2 linked regions of the Homo sapiens genome follow. The protein of the gene in region 1 interacts with the protein of each later gene in a biochemical or structural test. Each region holds a gene or a part of one and is shown on either strand. Other genes may lie near its edges.

Region 1 (11,098 bases):
ACCACCATCACCACCAGTACCATCACCACCATCACCACCACTACCACCACCACCACCATCACCACCACCACCATTACCACCACCATCACTACCACCACCACCATCACCACCAGTACCATCACCACCACCACCATCACTACCACCACCACCACCACCACCATTACCACCACCATCACTACCACCACCACCATCACCACCAGTACCATCACCACCAGTAGCATCACCACCACCACCACCATCACCATCACCACCAGTACCATCACCACCAGTACCATCACCATCAACACCACCATCTCCACCACCACCATTACCACCACCATCACTACCACCACCACCATCACCACCAGTACCATCACCACCAGTACCATCACCACCACCACCACCATCACCATCACCACCAGTACCATCACCATCATCACCACCATCACCACCACCACCATTACCACCACCATCACTACCACCACCACCACCATCACCACCACCACCATTACCACCACCATCACTACCACCACCACCATCACCAGTACCATCACCATCACCATCACCACCAGTACCATCACCATCATCACCACCATCACCACCACCACCATTACCACCACCATCACCACCACCACCATTACCACCACCATCACTACCACCACCACCATCACCAGTACCATCACCATCACCATCACCACCAGTACCATCACCATCATCACCACCATCACCACCACCACCATTACCACCACCATCACTACCACCACCACCACCATCACCACCACCACCATTACCACCACCATCACTACCACCACCACCACCATCACCACCACCACCATTACCACCACCATCACTACCACCACCACCATCACCAGTACCATCACCGCCATCACCACCACCATCACCACCACCACCACCACCATCACCACCACCACCACCACCATCACCACCAACACCACCATCACCACCACCACCACCACTACCACCACCATCATCACCACCACCACCACCACCACCACTGCCACCACCATTTACTTGTTCAAGTGAGCTTTTATAGTAGGGACCATTTTATGAAACTTAAATTTGTCCATTTATACAAATGTTTTCTGAAAGATACTGTTTTAGAAAATAATACAGTTTGCTTCTCTGTGTAGGAACACATGGTATGAATCATGCATGGCTAAAAGGTTAGGGGGTGGGCAGTGATTCCACCCTAAACACAAAAAAGCAGGTTCAAGAAGAAAAGAAGTGTGACATCTAATTTTTATTTGAAAGTAAATGAAAAATAACCTGCTGTGGAAAGAAAAAAAAAGAAAAGGAAAAAGGTCATGGAGAGAGAATAACAAAGAGCAAGATGCCAGAGTTAAGGCTCTAAGGGGGACTGTTTTTAGATGGGAGGGAGATGACACTTACCCATCTTGTAAATGGTATCTGAAGAGCAGGGCATGCACCCTGAGACCAGATTCAAAGCCAGTTGTTTATTTTTGTTAACTCCTAGGTAATCCTAGGTAACAAAGAGTTATTGTGTGAATTTCATAAGCCCTCAGGTCCTGAGGGCTGGGTGGTTCAGGGGTTAAAAGCACCTCATCTGCTCCCTTCCCCCAAGCTGGGCCTAAGCCTGGGTTAGGTCACAGATTGCAGAAGGTTTAGGAGGTTGGGCTCACGGTTTCTAGTCCCTGCATGCTGGCTGGGTGGGGAGAGCTCTCCTGTTGCTGGGGGCATCTGGGGCCTGCATGGGGCTGTGGAAACGGAGCCACTTTTGGAGGGAAGGGATAGAAGGGAGTTGAGCAGTTCAGAGGAGGGTGGAGTTGAGAGGCCAAGGGCTGTTGCCAGGGAAACATAGTTCTCGGTCTTCAGCCTGGTCTTCCTGAGGGCTGGGAGTTTGATTTGACTGGTAGGAAAGTCTGAGCTTGATAGGGAACCCCTGTCCTCTCCCACCTTCCCACAAAGGGAGGGTACATAGTTTGCTGGTGCCCCTGCTGGCAGGACCAATTTAGGAGTGACCAGAACAAGGTATGTGGAAGTGGGTTGTGGGGGTCCAGAAAGCTCTAGAACAAACCTGATGCCCATTCCACTTGGCGGCATTAACCTGCTGCCCCTGGCTTCCAGAGCTCATAGCACTTCCCTGTGGCCACTCTGCTGTGTGCCAGTCACCCCTGCTCTTTAACTAGAGCCTCCTTTTGGCCTGGGTTAAGGCCTGGACTGGGACCTTCCTCTGGAAGCCGTTCGGGGTGTGTAATGTGGTTAGTCATTACCCTCAGTAATTAATCACCCCTGGTAGTAATGAAAACTCACATTCACATTCGACCTGATAGTTTACAGAGGGCTTTTATATACTTCTGTCATTTGAACTTCCCAACAATTCTTACAGGTACTGTTTTTATGCTCATTTTACAGATAGGAATTCCAAGACTCAGAGAAATCAAATGACTATCCCAGAGTTACAATCTAGTGGATAATAGAGCTAGGCCTCCAGTCTCAGACCTCCTTGTTCTTCTGAATCTTGAGGCTTAGATCACATGACTTTTTCACATTGGTGACATACTAGAAATGGGGGTCATTCCTTCCCATAAAGTAAAATGAAATAAAATAAAAGCCAGTAGGTGGGCTAATAGCTGATTTTAACCCTTTTGATGTCTCAAGTTCCTATGCTTAGGGGCCAGGTGTCAGTTTATTGCTCTAAATCAAAACAATCCCCGTAAATGCCCAATGAGGCTCTCAAATTGAGAAGTTGATTTTCATCAGAGTAAATGAAGAATATTATTATATTTTACACATCAATAAATCAATGTAGCCCTAATTTTGCCACACAGGAAATCAATTCCAGTCTTTCTAAATCATCAAAGATGTTATGAACAAAGTAATTTCACAAATTATGGCAAGTAACACATTTATTGATGACTGCAGTTTAGGAATTTAGAATCTGTGAGCACTGTAATATAATATGGTACACCGGCATGAGCTGAGTGAAATACAGATTATATGGTGAAATTGTAATGCATCATTTGCTATTAGTGGACTGGTAATAATTACCAGTTTCAAAGCAGCTCTCTCCATGTAATCTTTAGTCTCAATCGTAACAGCCCTTCTCATTGACATTATGATTACACTAGCTGCCCTCATGATCTAGAATATCTAGTTGATGGGAATACTAAAATGCGATAGTGAAAACTGTATGTTGTATGCTCATTATAAGATAAAATGCCATTTTCTCTGACCTGATGTATGAGAGAGAGGGGAGGATAACATCACAGTGTTAACATACTGTAGCATGATCACATAACTGGCTCTGAAAAAAAGTTTAGGATGCTCAGGGCAGCAAAATAAAATGGACTTTTCTCATTTAAGCCTTTTTGAAAGGATACAAATGAGATCCTTGATGTAGTGCTGTATGCCACAGATTTTGGCATTTATCAATGACTACAATTCATGGCACATGTGAAACCAGCACCACTAATTATGAGTCTAGTCCTGGATTTCAATCGATGTTTTATAAGGTAAAATATAATTTTAAGGCATTTGGAGTGATGAACGTGTTAAGGACTTGGATTATCAGACAAATCTTTTTACTTGCCCAACTCAGATCGTCAGGCTAAATAGGAATGATAGTCACCCAGAGATCTAGGGAGGACAAGGAGGAAGCCACAGAGGATCATGTAGTTGGAACCAGATAGTTTTTTTTCCAGCCTATTTGGGACCCAAGTTATTGTTCAACAACAACAAAAAATTTATAAAAATGTTCTCAATGAAGCTTTTTATTTCCCTTTGAAGAGAGGAGGCAAACAAAAATAGGCAGATAATGTGATACTAATGTCAGCGTTTTCTTTCAAAATCTTTCTGCCTTTTTTCCCCCTTCCACATTAGACAAATGTTTGAAACCTAATTTTGGTATCTTACCATCTAATCTTGTTTAAGAGATTTACCCAGGAGTGAGATATATTGAGTGGGATTATAAATGCGTTGTAAAGTAAATTACAAGGTCAGGGCAGGAGTCCATTATTTAGACAAGTGCTTGAGCGAGGCTGGCTTATTTTGGAATACCAGTGTTTGGGGGCTCCTGAGAAGACCCTGCCGGCTTTTCTTTCTGACTTGCTAAATGGAGGCATCATATAATTGATTAATTCCTCATTCTCACTCTTAACCTCCCTGGTAGATTTTTTTTTTTTTTCCTTCTTAGAAAGTTACTGACAAATACTAGCTGTGGCCTTAAAGAACTCTTGCAGCCCTTCTTTTAAAAGAAGGAGAAAAGTTTGTTATTTCTCAGTTATATTTTAAGGCTTTTTTTTTCAGAATCTCTGGGAAGTTTTGTTTTTCTCATCCTCGTCCTTTGGCTACCATTACTTCTGCCCTTTTTAATGTTGCAGTTGACTAGTAAACTGTTGGTCAGTTATTCCATATATATATATATTTAATGTAGCTATCTCCCCATATATATTTAATTTAGCCATCTCCCCAAATGAAATATTTTGTGAAGTCAAGCTGGCCCTTCTTTGCCAAAGTGGCATTTACCACTCTTGGGTTCTTTTCAGCAAGGGAAATAATGTGACTTAAGCAGGGCCCCTCTCCAGACGGCTTGGCTACTGGCCAGAGTTGACTAGCTGAACTGTATCTTTCTGTTTCTTTCTCAACTGGAGCTGAGTCCCAGCCGAGGGCGCAGGATGTTGTATAATTTGGTTCACGTTGTTAGCCTCTCAAAACAATGAGGAGGAGGATAGTGTAGCATTTCTCAGCCTGCTGCCTGTCATGGCGCTGGCTGTTTTAACTGTTCCTTAAACTAGGATGCTGTGTCTGCTTAAGTCGGCACCAGCCACTCCTCCTAACTTTTCCAGACTTGCATTTGTCTGACCGGGGGACAACTCCTAAAGATTGGATACAGCCTATCCGTTAAATCTGAATGAAGTTTTTCTTTCAGATTTTTTAAACATTCTTTGAGATAAAAATGGACGTCCCCATGGGGTGTTGTGGAACCAAAATTGGGACTCACTGATCCTCCCACAGTCTGGGGTGTGAGAATGTTGCTAGTCTTTTTTCCACGGAAGTATTTTATGAGTACCCTCTCATTTTAACAATATCAACAATTAGTGTGTTTCAGGCTAATGCTGAAAGCATCTTTAGGGCCATAGAACATTGTAGTGAGTTGACCTTCTTCCCCTTTTTTGATACCTCTATGAAATGTTTGCCTATTTAGAAAGTTCACCTGTCACCCAGGGGGGAATAGAAAGCTGGGATTTAGGAAGCCAAAAAGTTTCCTTGGGTCACCTTGTCCAAGTTTCTCACTTAACAAGGAGGAAACAGAGGCACATGGAGATGAGATGGCTTGCCCCAAACTACAGCTGATGGAACTGGAAAGTTTAGAAGACATTTGTTGAGGTGCCTAGAATGTAGGGACCTTCATCCTCAAGCCAGAACTGGTCAGGATTTTTCTGCTTTGGGGATTGGATATAAAATTTCTAGAACTGAGTTTAATGGCAGGAAGATCAATTGGACCAATATTTACTGGGTACCCATGCTCAGACGTGCCAGGCACAGGGGGTAGGTCAGTGAGGGCTTAGGCCTTGGGGTTGAGGGGTGGGGGCAGGGAAGGCTGGAGGTGGAACATAAATAAGCAATTGCTGATGCCCGCCTCAGTGATTAAACATTGATGTTGGTGTTGTATTATTTTGCAGGTAAAGATGAGCCCAGCAGCTACACATGTACAACTTGCAAACAGCCATTCACCAGTGCATGGTTTCTCTTGCAACACGCACAGAACACTCATGGATTAAGAATCTACTTAGAAAGCGAACACGGAAGTCCCCTGACCCCGCGGGTTGGTATCCCTTCAGGACTAGGTGCAGAATGTCCTTCCCAGCCACCTCTCCATGGGATTCATATTGCAGACAATAACCCCTTTAACCTGCTAAGAATACCAGGATCAGTATCGAGAGAGGCTTCCGGCCTGGCAGAAGGGCGCTTTCCACCCACTCCCCCCCTGTTTAGTCCACCACCGAGACATCACTTGGACCCCCACCGCATAGAGCGCCTGGGGGCGGAAGAGATGGCCCTGGCCACCCATCACCCGAGTGCCTTTGACAGGGTGCTGCGGTTGAATCCAATGGCTATGGAGCCTCCCGCCATGGATTTCTCTAGGAGACTTAGAGAGCTGGCAGGGAACACGTCTAGCCCACCGCTGTCCCCAGGCCGGCCCAGCCCTATGCAAAGGTTACTGCAACCATTCCAGCCAGGTAGCAAGCCGCCCTTCCTGGCGACGCCCCCCCTCCCTCCTCTGCAATCCGCCCCTCCTCCCTCCCAGCCCCCGGTCAAGTCCAAGTCATGCGAGTTCTGCGGCAAGACGTTCAAATTTCAGAGCAACCTGGTGGTGCACCGGCGCAGCCACACGGGCGAGAAGCCCTACAAGTGCAACCTGTGCGACCACGCGTGCACCCAGGCCAGCAAGCTGAAGCGCCACATGAAGACGCACATGCACAAATCGTCCCCCATGACGGTCAAGTCCGACGACGGTCTCTCCACCGCCAGCTCCCCGGAACCCGGCACCAGCGACTTGGTGGGCAGCGCCAGCAGCGCGCTCAAGTCCGTGGTGGCCAAGTTCAAGAGCGAGAACGACCCCAACCTGATCCCGGAGAACGGGGACGAGGAGGAAGAGGAGGACGACGAGGAAGAGGAAGAAGAGGAGGAAGAGGAGGAGGAGGAGCTGACGGAGAGCGAGAGGGTGGACTACGGCTTCGGGCTGAGCCTGGAGGCGGCGCGCCACCACGAGAACAGCTCGCGGGGCGCGGTCGTGGGCGTGGGCGACGAGAGCCGCGCCCTGCCCGACGTCATGCAGGGCATGGTGCTCAGCTCCATGCAGCACTTCAGCGAGGCCTTCCACCAGGTCCTGGGCGAGAAGCATAAGCGCGGCCACCTGGCCGAGGCCGAGGGCCACAGGGACACTTGCGACGAAGACTCGGTGGCCGGCGAGTCGGACCGCATAGACGATGGCACTGTTAATGGCCGCGGCTGCTCCCCGGGCGAGTCGGCCTCGGGGGGCCTGTCCAAAAAGCTGCTGCTGGGCAGCCCCAGCTCGCTGAGCCCCTTCTCTAAGCGCATCAAGCTCGAGAAGGAGTTCGACCTGCCCCCGGCCGCGATGCCCAACACGGAGAACGTGTACTCGCAGTGGCTCGCCGGCTACGCGGCCTCCAGGCAGCTCAAAGATCCCTTCCTTAGCTTCGGAGACTCCAGACAATCGCCTTTTGCCTCCTCGTCGGAGCACTCCTCGGAGAACGGGAGTTTGCGCTTCTCCACACCGCCCGGGGAGCTGGACGGAGGGATCTCGGGGCGCAGCGGCACGGGAAGTGGAGGGAGCACGCCCCATATTAGTGGTCCGGGCCCGGGCAGGCCCAGCTCAAAAGAGGGCAGACGCAGCGACACTTGTGAGTACTGTGGGAAAGTCTTCAAGAACTGTAGCAATCTCACTGTCCACAGGAGAAGCCACACGGGCGAAAGGCCTTATAAATGCGAGCTGTGCAACTATGCCTGTGCCCAGAGTAGCAAGCTCACCAGGCACATGAAAACGCATGGCCAGGTGGGGAAGGACGTTTACAAATGTGAAATTTGTAAGATGCCTTTTAGCGTGTACAGTACCCTGGAGAAACACATGAAAAAATGGCACAGTGATCGAGTGTTGAATAATGATATAAAAACTGAATAGAGGTATATTAATACCCCTCCCTCACTCCCACCTGACACCCCCTTTTTCACCACTCCCCTTCCCCATCGCCCTCCAGCCCCACTCCCTGTAGGATTTTTTTCTAGTCCCATGTGATTTAAACAAACAAACAAACAAACAGAAGTAACGAAGCTAAGAATATGAGAGTGCTTGTCACCAGCACACCTGTTTTTTTTCTTTTTCTTTTTCTTTTTTCTTTTTCCTTTTTTTTTTTTTTCCTTTATGTTCTCACCGTTTGAATGCATGATCTGTATGGGGCAATACTATTGCATTTTACGCAAACTTTGAGCCTTTCTCTTGTGCAATAATTTACATGTTGTGTATGTTTTTTTTTAAACTTAGACAGCATGTATGGTATGTTATGGCTATTTTAAATTGTCCCTAATTCGTTGCTGAGCAAACATGTTGCTGTTTCCAGTTCCGTTCTGAGAGAAAAAGAGAGAGAGAGAGAAAAAGACCATGCTGCATACATTCTGTAATACATATCATGTACAGTTTTATTTTATAACGTGAGGAGGAAAAACAGTCTTTGGATTAACCCTCTATAGACAGAATAGATAGCACTGAAAAAAAATCTCTATGAGCTAAATGTCTGTCTCTAAAGGGTTAAATGTATCAATTGGAAAGGAAGAAAAAAGGCCTTGAATTGACAAATTAACAGAAAAACAGAACAAGTTTATTCTATCATTTGGTTTTAAAATATGAGTGCCTTGGATCTATTAAAACCACATCGATGGTTCTTTCTACTTGTTATAAACTTGTAGCTTAATTCAGCATTGGGTGAGGTAATAAACCTTAGGAACTAGCATATAATTCTATATTGTATTTCTCACAACAATGGCTACCTAAAAAGATGACCCATTATGTCCTAGTTAATCATCATTTTTCCTTTAGTTTAATTTTATAAACAAAACTGATTATACCAGTATAAAAGCTACTTTGCTCCTGGTGAGAGCTTAAAAGAAATGGGCTGTTTTGCCCAAAGTTTTATTTTTTTTAAACAATGATTAAATTGAATGTGTAATGTGCAAAAGCCCTGGAACGCAATTAAATACACTAGTAAGGAGTTCATTTTATGAAGATATTTGCTTTAATAATGTCTTTTTAAAAATACTGGCACCAAAAGAAATAGATCCAGATCTACTTGGTTGTCAAGTGGACAATCAAATGATAAACTTTAAGACCTTGTATACCATATTGAAAGGAAGAGGCTGACAATAAGGTTTGACAGAGGGGAACAGAAGAAAATAATATGATTTATTAGCACAACGTGGTACTATTTGCCATTTAAAACTAGAACAGGTATATAAGCTAATATTGATACAATGATGATTAACTATGAATTCTTAAGACTTGCATTTAAATGTGACATTCTTAAAAAAAGAAGAGAAAGAATTTTAAGAGTAGCAGTATATATGTCTGTGCTCCCTAAAAGTTGTACTTCATTTCTTTTCCATACACTGTGTGCTATTTGTGTTAACATGGAAGAGGATTCATTGTTTTTATTTTTATTTTTTTAATTTTTTCTTTTTTATTAAGCTAGCATCTGCCCCAGTTGGTGTTCAAATAGCACTTGACTCTGCCTGTGATATCTGTATCTTTTCTCTAATCAGAGATACAGAGGTTGAGTATAAAATAAACCTGCTCAGATAGGACAATTAAGTGCACTGTACAATTTTCCCAGTTTACAGGTCTATACTTAAGGGAAAAGTTGCAAGAATGCTGAAAAAAAATTGAACACAATCTCATTGAGGAGCATTTTTTAAAAACTAAAAAAAAAAAAACTTTGCCAGCCATTTACTTGACTATTGAGCTTACTTACTTGGACGCAACATTGCAAGCGCTGTGAATGGAAACAGAATACACTTAACATAGAAATGAATGATTGCTTTCGCTTCTACAGTGCAAGGATTTTTTTGTACAAAACTTTTTTAAATATAAATGTTAAGAAAAATTTTTTTTAAAAAACACTTCATTATGTTTAGGGGGGAACTGCATTTTAGGGTTCCATTGTCTTGGTGGTGTTACAAGACTTGTTATCCATTTAAAAATGGTAGTGGAAATTCTATGCCTTGGATACACACCGCTCTTCAGGTTGTAAAAAAAAAAAACATACATTGGGGAAAGGTTTAAGATTATATAGTACTTAAATATAGGAAAATGCACACTCATGTTGATTCCTATGCTAAAATACATTTATGGTCTTTTTTCTGTATTTCTAGAATGGTATTTGAATTAAATGTTCATCTAGTGTTAGGCACTATAGTATTTATATTGAAGCTTGTATTTTTAACTGTTGCTTGTTCTCTTAAAAGGTATCAATGTACCTTTTTTGGTAGTGGAAAAAAAAAAGACAGGCTGCCACAGTATATTTTTTTAATTTGGCAGGATAATATAGTGCAAATTATTTGTATGCTTCAAAAAAAAAAAAAAGAGAGAAACAAAAAAGTGTGACATTACAGATGAGAAGCCATATAATGGCGGTTTGGGGGAGCCTGCTAGAATGTCACATGGATGGCTGTCATAGGGGTTGTACATATCCTTTTTTGTTCCTTTTTCCTGCTGCCATACTGTATGCAGTACTGCAAGCTAATAACGTTGGTTTGTTATGTAGTGTGCTTTTTGTCCCTTTCCTTCTATCACCCTACATTCCAGCATCTTACCTTCATATGCAGTAAAAGAAAGAAAGAAAAAAAAAGGAAAAAAAAAAAAAAACCAATGTTTTGCAGTTTTTTTCATTGCCAAAAACTAAATGGTGCTTTATATTTAGATTGGAAAGAATTTCATATGCAAAGCATATTAAAGAGAAAGCCCGCTTTAGTCAATACTTTTTTGTAAATGGCAATGCAGAATATTTTGTTATTGGCCTTTTCTATTCCTGTAATGAAAGCTGTTTGTCGTAACTTGAAATTTTATCTTTTACTATGGGAGTCACTATTTATTATTGCTTATGTGCCCTGTTCAAAACAGAGGCACTTAATTTGATCTTTTATTTTTCTTTGTTTTTATTTTTTTTTTTATTTAGATGACCAAAGGTCATTACAACCTGGCTTTTTATTGTATTTGTTTCTGGTCTTTGTTAAGTTCTATTGGAAAAACCACTGTCTGTGTTTTTTTGGCAGTTGTCTGCATTAACCTGTTCATACACCCATTTTGTCCCTTTATTGAAAAAATAAAAAAAATTAAAGTACACATTGTAAGCTTCTTGTGTCCTCATTTGACACACTCTGTAAATTACTTGCAAGAAAATAACAGGTTTTAAGAGAAGGCCAGTCAGTCTTTTTCAGGATTATTTCTATGGGCATTCTGATGCGTGTATTATACCCTAAAGGAACATAAAGTACTTACTATATTAAAATAGACATATCTCAAACCCTGGACATAGTTTTAAGGCTTTCCAGTTTAGAATAGTTTTCA
Region 2 (10,382 bases), on another chromosome or scaffold:
TATCAAAATTAAAAATGCATATAATCTTTGACCCAGAAATGCCACTTCTAAGAGTTTATCCTACGGAAACACCCCCACAAACCCACAAAAGTGTATATGGAAGGTGAGTTCTTTGCAGTTTAATTTATTATAGTGAAACACTGCAAGCAACCCAAGTTCCTGAACAAGGAATTAGTTGGGTAAACAGTGGTCCATCCTTAAAATGGAATACTAGATAGATGTTAAATTGAATGAGGTAGAGCCATATGTATTCATCAGGAGAGATAGCCTTAGGCAAAAAAGAAACTTGCAGAAAAGTAGTGTTTCCATTTTTATAAAATGTTTAAGAAAGGCAGCCATGAGTAATCTCTGGCCAATGGATTCAGTGCTTGGGCTCCTACATTGGATTGAAAACCTTGAGCTATATGTAAAATAATTTAGGAGTCTCAATTCAGAGACTGAGCTCACCGCCTGTTCTCTCTCTTCTCTTGTATCAAAGGATAACTAAAAGTAAGTTAAACACAAATGTAAGACATCATATCTAATAGCCATGGTATGTAAATAACACTTTTGAAAAGTGACCCTCCAAGATTTAGAAAAAACATTTATCAAAGGAGAAGCATTAGGCTGGGCATGGTGGCTCACACCGGTAATCTCAGCACTTTGGGAGGCTGAGGAGGGTGGATCACCTAAGATCAGGAGTTTGAGACCAGCCTGGCCAACATGGGGAAACCCCATCTCTACTAAAAACACAAAATTAGCCAGGCGTGGTGGCGCACCCCTGCAATCCCAGCTACTCCAGAGGCTGAGACACGAGAATCACTTAGAATCCAGGAACTCGGGAGGTGGAGGTTGCAGTGAGCCGAGATCGGGCCATTGCACTCTACCCTGGGAGACAGAGTGAGACTCTGTCAAAAAAAAAAAAAAAAAAAAAGGAGAAGCATTGAAGACAATTTTTTCTTTCTTACTGGAATAATCATTTGGCTGAATGCATCTCTTATTTGTCCATTTGGATTGTATATCTTGAACTTGTGTATTCACGGACCACTGTTGAGCCTCCCCCACAACACCAGCCATAGAGAATATCTGCTACTGAGCTTTAAATTCTGGGCCTTCTCAAATGTTGAAAGCCAGGCTTGCTTTTTTTTTTTTTTTTAAATAATGACAGAGATGCCCAAAAGAAAAGCAATCCCAGTAGGAATCAGTATTCTGTGGCTTGTCACAAGAATCTTACTCCCTTTTAATTTTCCTGAGAATATTTATAATAGACTAAAGTAGATTGTGATTGTACTAGATTTTGTTATAGTTCAGTGAATCTTCTCTCCTCACTCCACCTCTACGGGAGGAGTGCACTTCTCTGCCCATTTAAGGTTGGGAAGGTTGACCATCGATCTTGCTGTGGCCGGGGGAAAGTAAGCAATGTGAAGTGAGTAGCAGCTGTAAATGTGTTTGCATCAGCCTCTTGCACTTCTGCACGTTGCCATGAAAAGAAGCTATCCTAGGAAAGCTGCTAGTCCAGGATGAGGAAACCCTGAAGCTTATTTATTTATTTATTATTGAGACAGGGTCTCACTCTGTCACCAGGCTGGAGTGCAGTAGCATGATCACAGCTCACTGCAGCCTCGACTTCCTGGGCTCAAGTGATCCTCCCACCTTGGCCTCCCAAATAACTAGGACCACAGGTGCACATGACGACACCTGGCTAATTTTTTGTATTTTTAGTAGAGACTGGGTTCCACCTTGTTGCACAGGCTAGTCTCGAACTCCTGGGCTTGTGATCTGCCTGTCTCAGCCTCCCAAAGTGCTGGGATTATAGGTGTGAGTCACCTCCCCCAGACTCCCTGGAGCATATTAAACCCAAACTATAGCCTGGAGTCAGCTCCAGCTGAGCCCAGCCAAGCCCTGCACAGCCACATGAGGCTGGCAGTCCTGTGAGCAAGTTATAAGAGTTTGTTGCTGTAAGCTTTGAGGGATGTTTGTTATTCAGTATTATTGAAGGAAAACTTGACTGATACACAGATGAACAGCCTTGGACCCATCACTCAGCTTTACTAAATCTTGTCATTCATCTCATATTTGTTTGAGATTTTTTTCTTATGAAATTAACCATTACAGAAACATTTGAGGGTCCTGTTATACCCTTCACCCATCCCATCTCTTCTTGGAAGTAGCCACTATCCAGCAGTTAGTGTTTATAATACTCATGCCTGTTTTAAATGTTTCCTATACATTTATATGCCCATAAACATTGTCTAGTATTGTTCTGTAGGTTGTAAAACTTTATATAAATGATACCAAGCTGTATGTGCCCTCTGCAATTTACTTTCCCCATAACACACACAAACACACTGTATTTCAGATTTACCCATGTTGATACATTAGCTCTAGCCATTCACTTTGCCTACGGTAACATTGTCTGTATTCACCACAATGTACCTATTATCTGTCAATGGATACTAAAGTTGTTAAATACGAACAGTGTTGCAAGGGACATTCTTACACAGTCTTTGAGTACTGTGCTTTTCTTTAAGACCAATTCTCATTCTCCGTAGAATAAGTAGACAAGAAGTGCACAGCTGATTGAAATTTCACATATACGGTCCGCAAGACCATTTTAGCAAGAGCAGAGGCACAAGCATCTCTTGCTGGAGCTGCCACCCAAAAGGAGTCTACAGTGCCTGTGGCCTTGGGCACCTCTGATGGCCTTTGCTTGTGGGACCGGTGCCTTAAGACTTGCTGGGAACATCTGGATGACATTTCTACTGCTCCCTCCACATCTTACTCACCATATGAACTTTATCATACTTTATCTTTTTGATCATTAAATGATTTCAAGTGACTGGTCAGGATTGAAATGTTGGCAAGAGAGTTAGAAACAGAGGAAGGAATGAAGACTCTGTTAATCGGCCTCCTTCCTCCTCACACAGCAATTTTTCTAACAGATGCAATTACATTTGAGAGCTGTAGAGAACAGAATCTTACGTTTTATTTCTTTATTCATCATTTTCCAAATGGTATTCACTGTAAGAAGGAAATTGCCTTTGTAGTTCAGTTCTGCAGGCTCTGTGCTGGAGTGCTCCGAGCTTCAGTTTTAACACCAGCTGCTGCCCCTACCTTGTTTCTGGTGGGTGAGAACCAGCCAGGGAGGGAGGGTAAGAAATCAGAAAGAGTTCATTTAAATTCAATATATTTTTATTCTTTGTAAATACAATGAGTACAACCTTTTAACTTCACAAATCAGTTAATTCACTTTGTACAAGAAAAGTTTTACTCATCCTATGATAGTCCAAGTGCTGAATTTTTTTTCCTCAGTGCTAGTACCTAATAAATCAAAATGTGAAAAGTACAGCAGCTATTTAAAAATGTTTGTTTCTACATTTCCATAAGTATAGAGTCATACCAAAGGAGCAGCTTAAAGTGTAGGACGGTGTGTGTGTGTGTGTGTGTGTGTGTGTGTGTGTGTGTGTGTGTGTGTGTTCATTCAAGGCTTTACTAGAAACCAGTTTTCGGAAAGGCATTGAAGAGTCTCAGGCTGTTAGCAATGGATCAGTCAAGAACCCTTTTAGCATTCATTCATCTCCTTGAAGTTCCTTCTGCAATTACGTCCATATTCGTTTCCTGTCTGGTGTGACTTGCTGCACCACGAGTTTGGACCCCCACTGCCTTTGGTTTCAGCACTATGTTAACGGGACAGCAATCTACCTCACTCAATCACTCATCTCCACTTTATTTGGTTTTGCTGTTTTTATTCATCCTCCCTTGACTTATGTTCTTTTAGTAAAGCTCTTCTCTTTTTGACATGTTATCCAACCTGAAGTCCTGGTGAGAATCTCATTTTGTCCATCAATTCCTTTGACAAGGTTGCCTGGCCTATGGTATTAAAAAAGAAGAAGAAAGAACAAAAGAAAGAGAAAGAAAAGAAAAAAGAAGATAGAGAAAAAGCAAATCACATGGCATAAGCTACTTTTCACTTATTAACTCAGTTCTGAAGGCCACTTAATAATGTATTACAATAGAGGGGAAACTTTTGATAACACTTTTAATTTAAAACCTACCATTATTTTTAAAATAAATGCTCCAACATAACGTAGTTTTGAAGGCCGCAGTACGATGTTATACACAGAGCTATATTTGGTTACCAAACTTTGTATGCTAAAAAGGAAGAGAAAGCACTACTTATGTTTCAGCTTTTGATCGTTCAGCCTGATCTTCCAGGTAAGAGGCAGAATGGCACGGCCTGTGGCAACCCCCAGTTTGCCCCCTCCCAGGGCATGGCAGCAGTGAGTTTTCAGTGCAGGCGGTCCTGTTGCACCCCTCTCCTTCCCACCCGCCCTATCCTGGTCAGGGCGGCAGGTCATAGCTACTGGAATGCTTTGTGTCAATTGGCATTTTTTTCCTGAAGGCTACACATTCCCCGGTATATGCTTCCTGAAGGGTTTGTTAGTTGAGGCTTGTTCTCCATGGGTTGAAGTTCATCTGATACTGTCCCATCCTGAAAAGTGGGTATCTTGTGAGCTTAGATATCACTGGATTTGTACATATCTGAAAGCAGTCTTGTAATTGGCACATTGCCGATGGTTTTTTTGAAAAACACTTCTTCTATAGTTGATGGGCTAATAGAACGTAAAGCTGGCAAAAGCAACAGGAGTTTTCCAAAGCGACAGGGTTGAGTGGGATATCTGGAATGTGAGAAGCCATGAAAACAAGGTCAGAGGCCATTACTTATGGAAACTAACGTCTTACACTTGAACACACATCATCTCCAGCATTGCTGATCTAGGTCTCTTGAATAACACAGTATCCCTGCAGCAAAGTTCTGGACAGGCACTGTTGTCCCCGTTTTGCAGGTAGACTACTTGAGGCAGGGAGACCATAAATGATGCTGCCAAAATCACACGGACACCCTCTCTACATTAACAAATGGATTGCATTTTGTTTGGGAAAAAAAAAGAAATTTAAGAAGCATAATACTAATTTTAAGCCAAATAATAAATTTAAGGTTTCCATTATAGAAAACGACCAGGGCATTGAGGATAAGGCTAGCAACAGAACCCATGTTTTCTAATTCTAAGGACTCCTCAAGGCTATTTCCCTCAAATAAAATGGCTTCTTTTTCTAAGCAATTCTCCAAATTATTATTCAGGCATTATACTTAGTCTCTCTCAGGAATAATTCCATCCTTATTACACTGCAAATTAAAGACTAAGTTCTGTTGGGTGGCAGTGCCACCCAACTCTCATGTCAATGAAATTGGCATGTAATTAAAGATGTGAGAAATTGCTTAACAATTTCCTCTTTTGATGTCCAACATATATCTGTGCTCAGATGTGCAAGTTCAATCTTCTGCTGCCTTTAGATGCCTGCAAGCCACCTCCTCACTGCAGCCCTGATACTTCTTCAGCCAATAGTTAGAATTAGATATCAATATACATAAGGAGAGCTCCCTCCACTGAAATGAAACACCTAAAACCTGAACTTCCGGGATACACATCTGTGACTAAGCTGGGTTCAACCCAGGCCACAAGGTGCTAGAAGCTAAGGGATATCAAAATTCCTTCGAAGGAGTCAGGTGGCTGTGTTTAACTGCCTGATAACTCCACCCTGCAAATAAAGTTCAGGGGAGCAACTTTCATGCTTGTCTAAATATTTAGCTCTGGGCACATAAGAGTCCTTCACTTCCACAGAATACAAGGCTTATAGTTCATCTGGGCCTCTCAGGACCTCAGCTGGCTCTTTCACTGCCCAGCTTCATGACCACCTGCAGATAGGGGCCACCAGACCACATCTAGTAGTGTGGTGTGGAAATGGTGAAGCTTACCTGCATTAAAAAAAAATACTTAAATCCTACCACTTGTTCTCCTTGTTTAATGTATTTCTAATGTTTCTTGGAAAGTAATCCCCAAATCCGTGTCTCCCTTTCACCTTGGCCACTTCTTTTCAACAGCTCTATTTCCCTTCCCAGGACCAGGCATAGTAGAGATAATTCTTCAGCAAGTCGGAGGCAGTGGCTGCCTGGACGACCTCTGCCATCTGCAGCATCCACCCAACATGCTGAACATTTCCCGTGGTGAGAAACCACTGTGAGAAATAATCACCTTCAGAAAGGATGAATTTGGGGGAATCTATAGACAACCAACTCCTGATTTTCTGCGATTAGATTACCCACTCATCTACTCTCCCACTTATTTTATTCTTTAGTTGGGAAAGGGTTGGTTAGTCAGTCAACAAAAATTAATTGTCTATTACATATAGCATACTGTACTACTACCAGAAACAATAGCAATGTATGAGGTCAGGTGTGGTGGCTCATACCTGTAATCCCAGCACTTTGGGAGGCTGAGGCAAGAGCATCGCTTGAGCCCAGGAGTTCAAGATGAGCCTGGGCAACATAGCAAGGGCTCATCTCTACAAAAATTCGCTGGGCACCTGTAGTCCCAGATACTCAGAAGGCAGAGGTGGGAGAATTGCTTGAGCCTCAGAGGCAGAGGTTGCAGTGAGCCATGATTGCACCACTGCAATGCAGCCTGGGCATCCAAAACAAAAACAATGTGTGTGTGTGTGTGTGTGTGTATGTGTGTGTGCGTGTGTGTGTGTGTGTGTTAGAGAGAGAAGGTCTGACTAATCAAAATTATTTTTTAGAATATCTATGCCCTTGTCTTCATCCATTAGCATCAATAATTGGATTTTCTTTTAGGTTTAAGTGTTTTAGGTCTATTACAGATTTGCATATTTGATCTTCAGTTATAGAATATAGTTTGTGTGGAATGTCAATTCCTAGCCTTCTCCTTACGTCCTCGATAATTAGAGAAATAGCTTAGAGAGCTGTAATATACAATTAGGCTCAGTTTCAGTTTGCATGTTAAGTTTTCATTTCAAGTTCAGGTTTTATTTTTCTAGACAGGAAAGTGCTGGAGGAAAAAGTGTTCACTGATTTGAAGGGCTAAGAAATAAGGCATAGTCATTTTTGTCACATGTATGACCCTAGATATAAATATTAAATTACAGCTGTAGCTGATATCAGAATGAAATAAGAATTCCATGAAATAAGAAATTCCATAATTCCATTATTTAATAAGAAATAAGATACTTATTTGATATTTACTATTCTAATATTTAATAGAAATAATAAGAATTCCATGGCAAAGCAGATGTGTTTTTTCCACACATAATTTTCTTCTTTTGCGGTGTTGGGGAGATGTACTTTACTTGCCATTTCTCTAAAATAGGCTGTTGTTAACCCATGGTTGAATTCTCTCGGGCCACCCTATCAGCAGCTCCTGGCACACCAGGCTCCCCTCCTCACTCACCTCTCTGGCACTTCCCACAGGACCCCTACCAGCTCCTCCACCACTCTCAGGACACATCTTCTCCCCTGCTGAAATCCTCCTCCCATTGAAGGACCAATTCACATGTTCTTTCCTCCACCCATCAGACTTTGAGCTTTTCTGATTGTCCCTCACTCCCTCTGACTAGGATTCATCTGTCACACTCCCCACATTGCTTTCCTCTCTTCTCTAGTTTGGATTGGAGTGACACTGCTGCCCACTTCTTGCAATGATAAGGGGCAGTGTCTTGCTCCTTCTGGTATCCCATATCGCCCACCTGCAGCCCTGCATGTGGCCAGTACTCGGCAAAGGCTTGACTGGATCAATAACTGGATACCACGTCCTTCTCATTTTTAAGTTCTTAATACCATAATGGCTCTAAATGTCAAAGGTCAGTTAGGACATACAAGTTAGTTTGTTTTTGTTTTTTTGTCTTTTTAATTTTTTTGTTTGTTTTTTAGACGGAGTCTCACTCACTCTGTTACCTGGGGCTGGAGTGCAGTGGCACAATCTCGGCTCACTGCAACCTCCACTTCCCAGCTTCAAGCAGTTCTCCTGCCTCAGCCTCCTGAGTAGCTGGGACTACAGGTGCACGTCATGACGCCCAGCTAACTTTTCTATTTTTGGTAGAGACGGGTTTCACCATGTTGGCCAGGCTGGTGTTGAACTCCTGACCTCAGGTAATCCGCCCTCCTTGAACTCCCAAAGTGCTTGGGATTACAGGTGTGAGCCACTGTGCCCGGCCTACAAGTCAGTAGAAGTACCCAGATTATGTACTGCTCCATTTAATAAATTTGAACAAATATTAACTGCCTACTATATATATTCTGTAATTCAATATGCATTTAAAATTCAAATCCTGGCATTTTAATTTGAAAAAACATATACAGGTGCACTATCTGTCAACATAGTTTCAGTGATATTCCATAGACAGGGAACAGTTTTATTCATTTAGTATTCAAAAGAGGTTTACGATAGAAATAGAGAGACTCTAGCAGAAGTGGTATCACCCCAAATGGACAGAGTTGACTTGGGATTTCTCTGACCCATTAGTTGAGGGAGGCATTAACAGCCTCTACCCATTTGATGTATTTATTCCCCCCACAGTGTCTATAGCTGATGTTGAGATTATGGAGCTGAGCTTTCACAGATTCCTTTCAAATCAGCCTAGAGAAGAGTAACTCTATTCTAACTTCAAATCTACCAGTCCTAACTCAGGAAACTAGAAAGTTTCCATTTCTCTTTAAAAGCCTGGCTTTTTTTTTAAATGGCATAATAAAATTTACACTTCTTCTTTTTTTTTTTTTTAAATTTTTGGTGGAGATGGGGTCTTGCCATGTTGTGCCCAGGCTGGTCTCGAACTCTTGAGCTCAAGTGAACTGCCTGCCTTGGCCTCCCAAAATGCTGGGATTACAGGTGTGGAGCCACCTCAGCCCCCAGTCTATACTTCTTAATGGGCTTGCCCAGTGCTGGGCCAGGAGGAGCTTTGTTGGAGCCCCAGTCTCTGAGAGTTCCTACAAACAGCCAAAAACAGCCTCTGCCTGTGGGCCCTGCATGGCCAGAAGTAACCTGGTAGATGTTATGACACAAAATAACAGATACCAGTCACCAAGGCCAAACAACAGTTATGATAGGTGAAAAGATGGCTTCTTTAGGCTGGGCACAGTGGCCCAGGCCTGTAATCCCAGCACTTTGGGAGACTTAGGTGGGAGGATCACTTGAGGCCAGGAGTTCGAGACCAGCCTGGGCAACATAGCAAGACCTTGTCTCTATAAAAAGTTTAAAAATTAGCTGGGTGTGCCGGGCATGGTGGCTCACACCTGTAATCCCAGCACTTTGGGAGGTCAAGGCAGGCAGATCACAAGTTCAGGAGTTCGAGACCTGCCTGGCCAACACGGTGAAACCCCGTCTCTACTGAAAATACAAAAATTAGCTGGGCGTGGTGGCAGGCACCTGTAATCCCAGCTACTTGGGAGGCTGAGGCAGGAGAATCACTTGAACCCGGAAGGCGAAGGTTGCAGTGAGCCGAGATTGCACCGCTACACTCCAGCCTGGGTGAAAGAGTGAAACTCTGTCTCAAAAAAAAAAAAAAAAAAAAATTAGCTGGGTGTGGTGGCATGCACCTATAGTCTCAGCTACTCAATAGGCTGAGGTGGGAGGATCACATGAGCCCATGAGTTCAAGGCTGCAGTGAGCCATGCTCACATGCCACTGCACTTCAGCCTTCCAGCCTGGGCAACAGAGCAAGACCCTGTCTCAAAAAAAAAGATAGCCTCTCTGGAAAGTTCTCTCATCCTTTTATTTGAGATTGGCATCTGAAGAAAGTCACCTGTGTTTTCTCAAGGATGATGTGGCCACTCTCTCACATACCAACCATTACACTTTGAGCTTCTTTTTTTTTTTTTTTTTTTTTGAGACGGAGTCTCGCTCTGTCGCCCAGGCTGGAGTGCAGTGGCACAATATCGGCTCACTGCAAGTTCCACCTCCCAGGTTCACGACATTCTCCTGCCTCAGCCTTCCGAGTAGCTGCTGGGACTACAGGTGCCCACCACCACACCCAGCTAATTTTTTTGTATTATTTAGTAGAGACGGGGTTTCACTGTGTTAGCCAGGATGGTCTCGATCTTCTGACCTCGTGATCCACCCACCTCGGCCTCCCAAAGTGCTGGGATTACAGGCGTGAGCCACTGTGCCCAGCCTAGGCTTCATTTTTGACCCCTCCATACCCATTCACACAAATGTTGTTCCATTATTTTGATGGATCAATTTGTTCCGCCAGGACAACTGTAATATGTCTGGCAGTGCTTTCACTTTGATCATCTAATTAGATTTGCTCCTCTCACCCACCCTGAGAGATAGGTAAGGACATGGATTCTCCCTAAATTAACTGGCTGGCAACAAGATAATTAGTCACAATGTTTGAACTGGCTTATTACCGCCTGCTCAGGCATTCACAATGGAGGCAATTTTCTTAAGTACATGTTCAAGGCAAACAAGGGTCACCTGGTATGGATGTAGCTGTTGAGCGTTAGCTGAGCCTCATCTTGAAGGGCTGCAATGGCGGCAGCATTCCGGAAA

What was found.
Region 2: the proteins of BCL11A (region 1) and NR2E1 form a complex in vitro, tested with the Homo sapiens proteins (one study listed by BioGRID).

Annotation. Positions count from the first base shown.
Region 1 is NC_000002.12:60,456,969-60,468,066, reverse strand, and holds the end of BCL11A (BCL11 transcription factor A), read left to right. Parts: intron 1-5,642; coding exon 5,643-7,663; 3' UTR 7,664-10,873; downstream 10,874-11,098. UniProt on the Homo sapiens protein: Transcription factor. Associated with the BAF SWI/SNF chromatin remodeling complex. Binds to the 5'-TGACCA-3' sequence motif in regulatory regions of target genes, including a distal promoter of the HBG1 hemoglobin subunit gamma-1 gene.
Region 2 is NC_000006.12:108,181,577-108,191,958, reverse strand, and holds the end of NR2E1 (nuclear receptor subfamily 2 group E member 1), read right to left. Parts: coding exon 10,308-10,382; intron 4,659-10,307; coding exon 4,496-4,658; 3' UTR 3,154-4,495; downstream 1-3,153. UniProt on the Homo sapiens protein: Orphan receptor that binds DNA as a monomer to hormone response elements (HRE) containing an extended core motif half-site sequence 5'-AAGGTCA-3' in which the 5' flanking nucleotides participate in determining receptor specificity.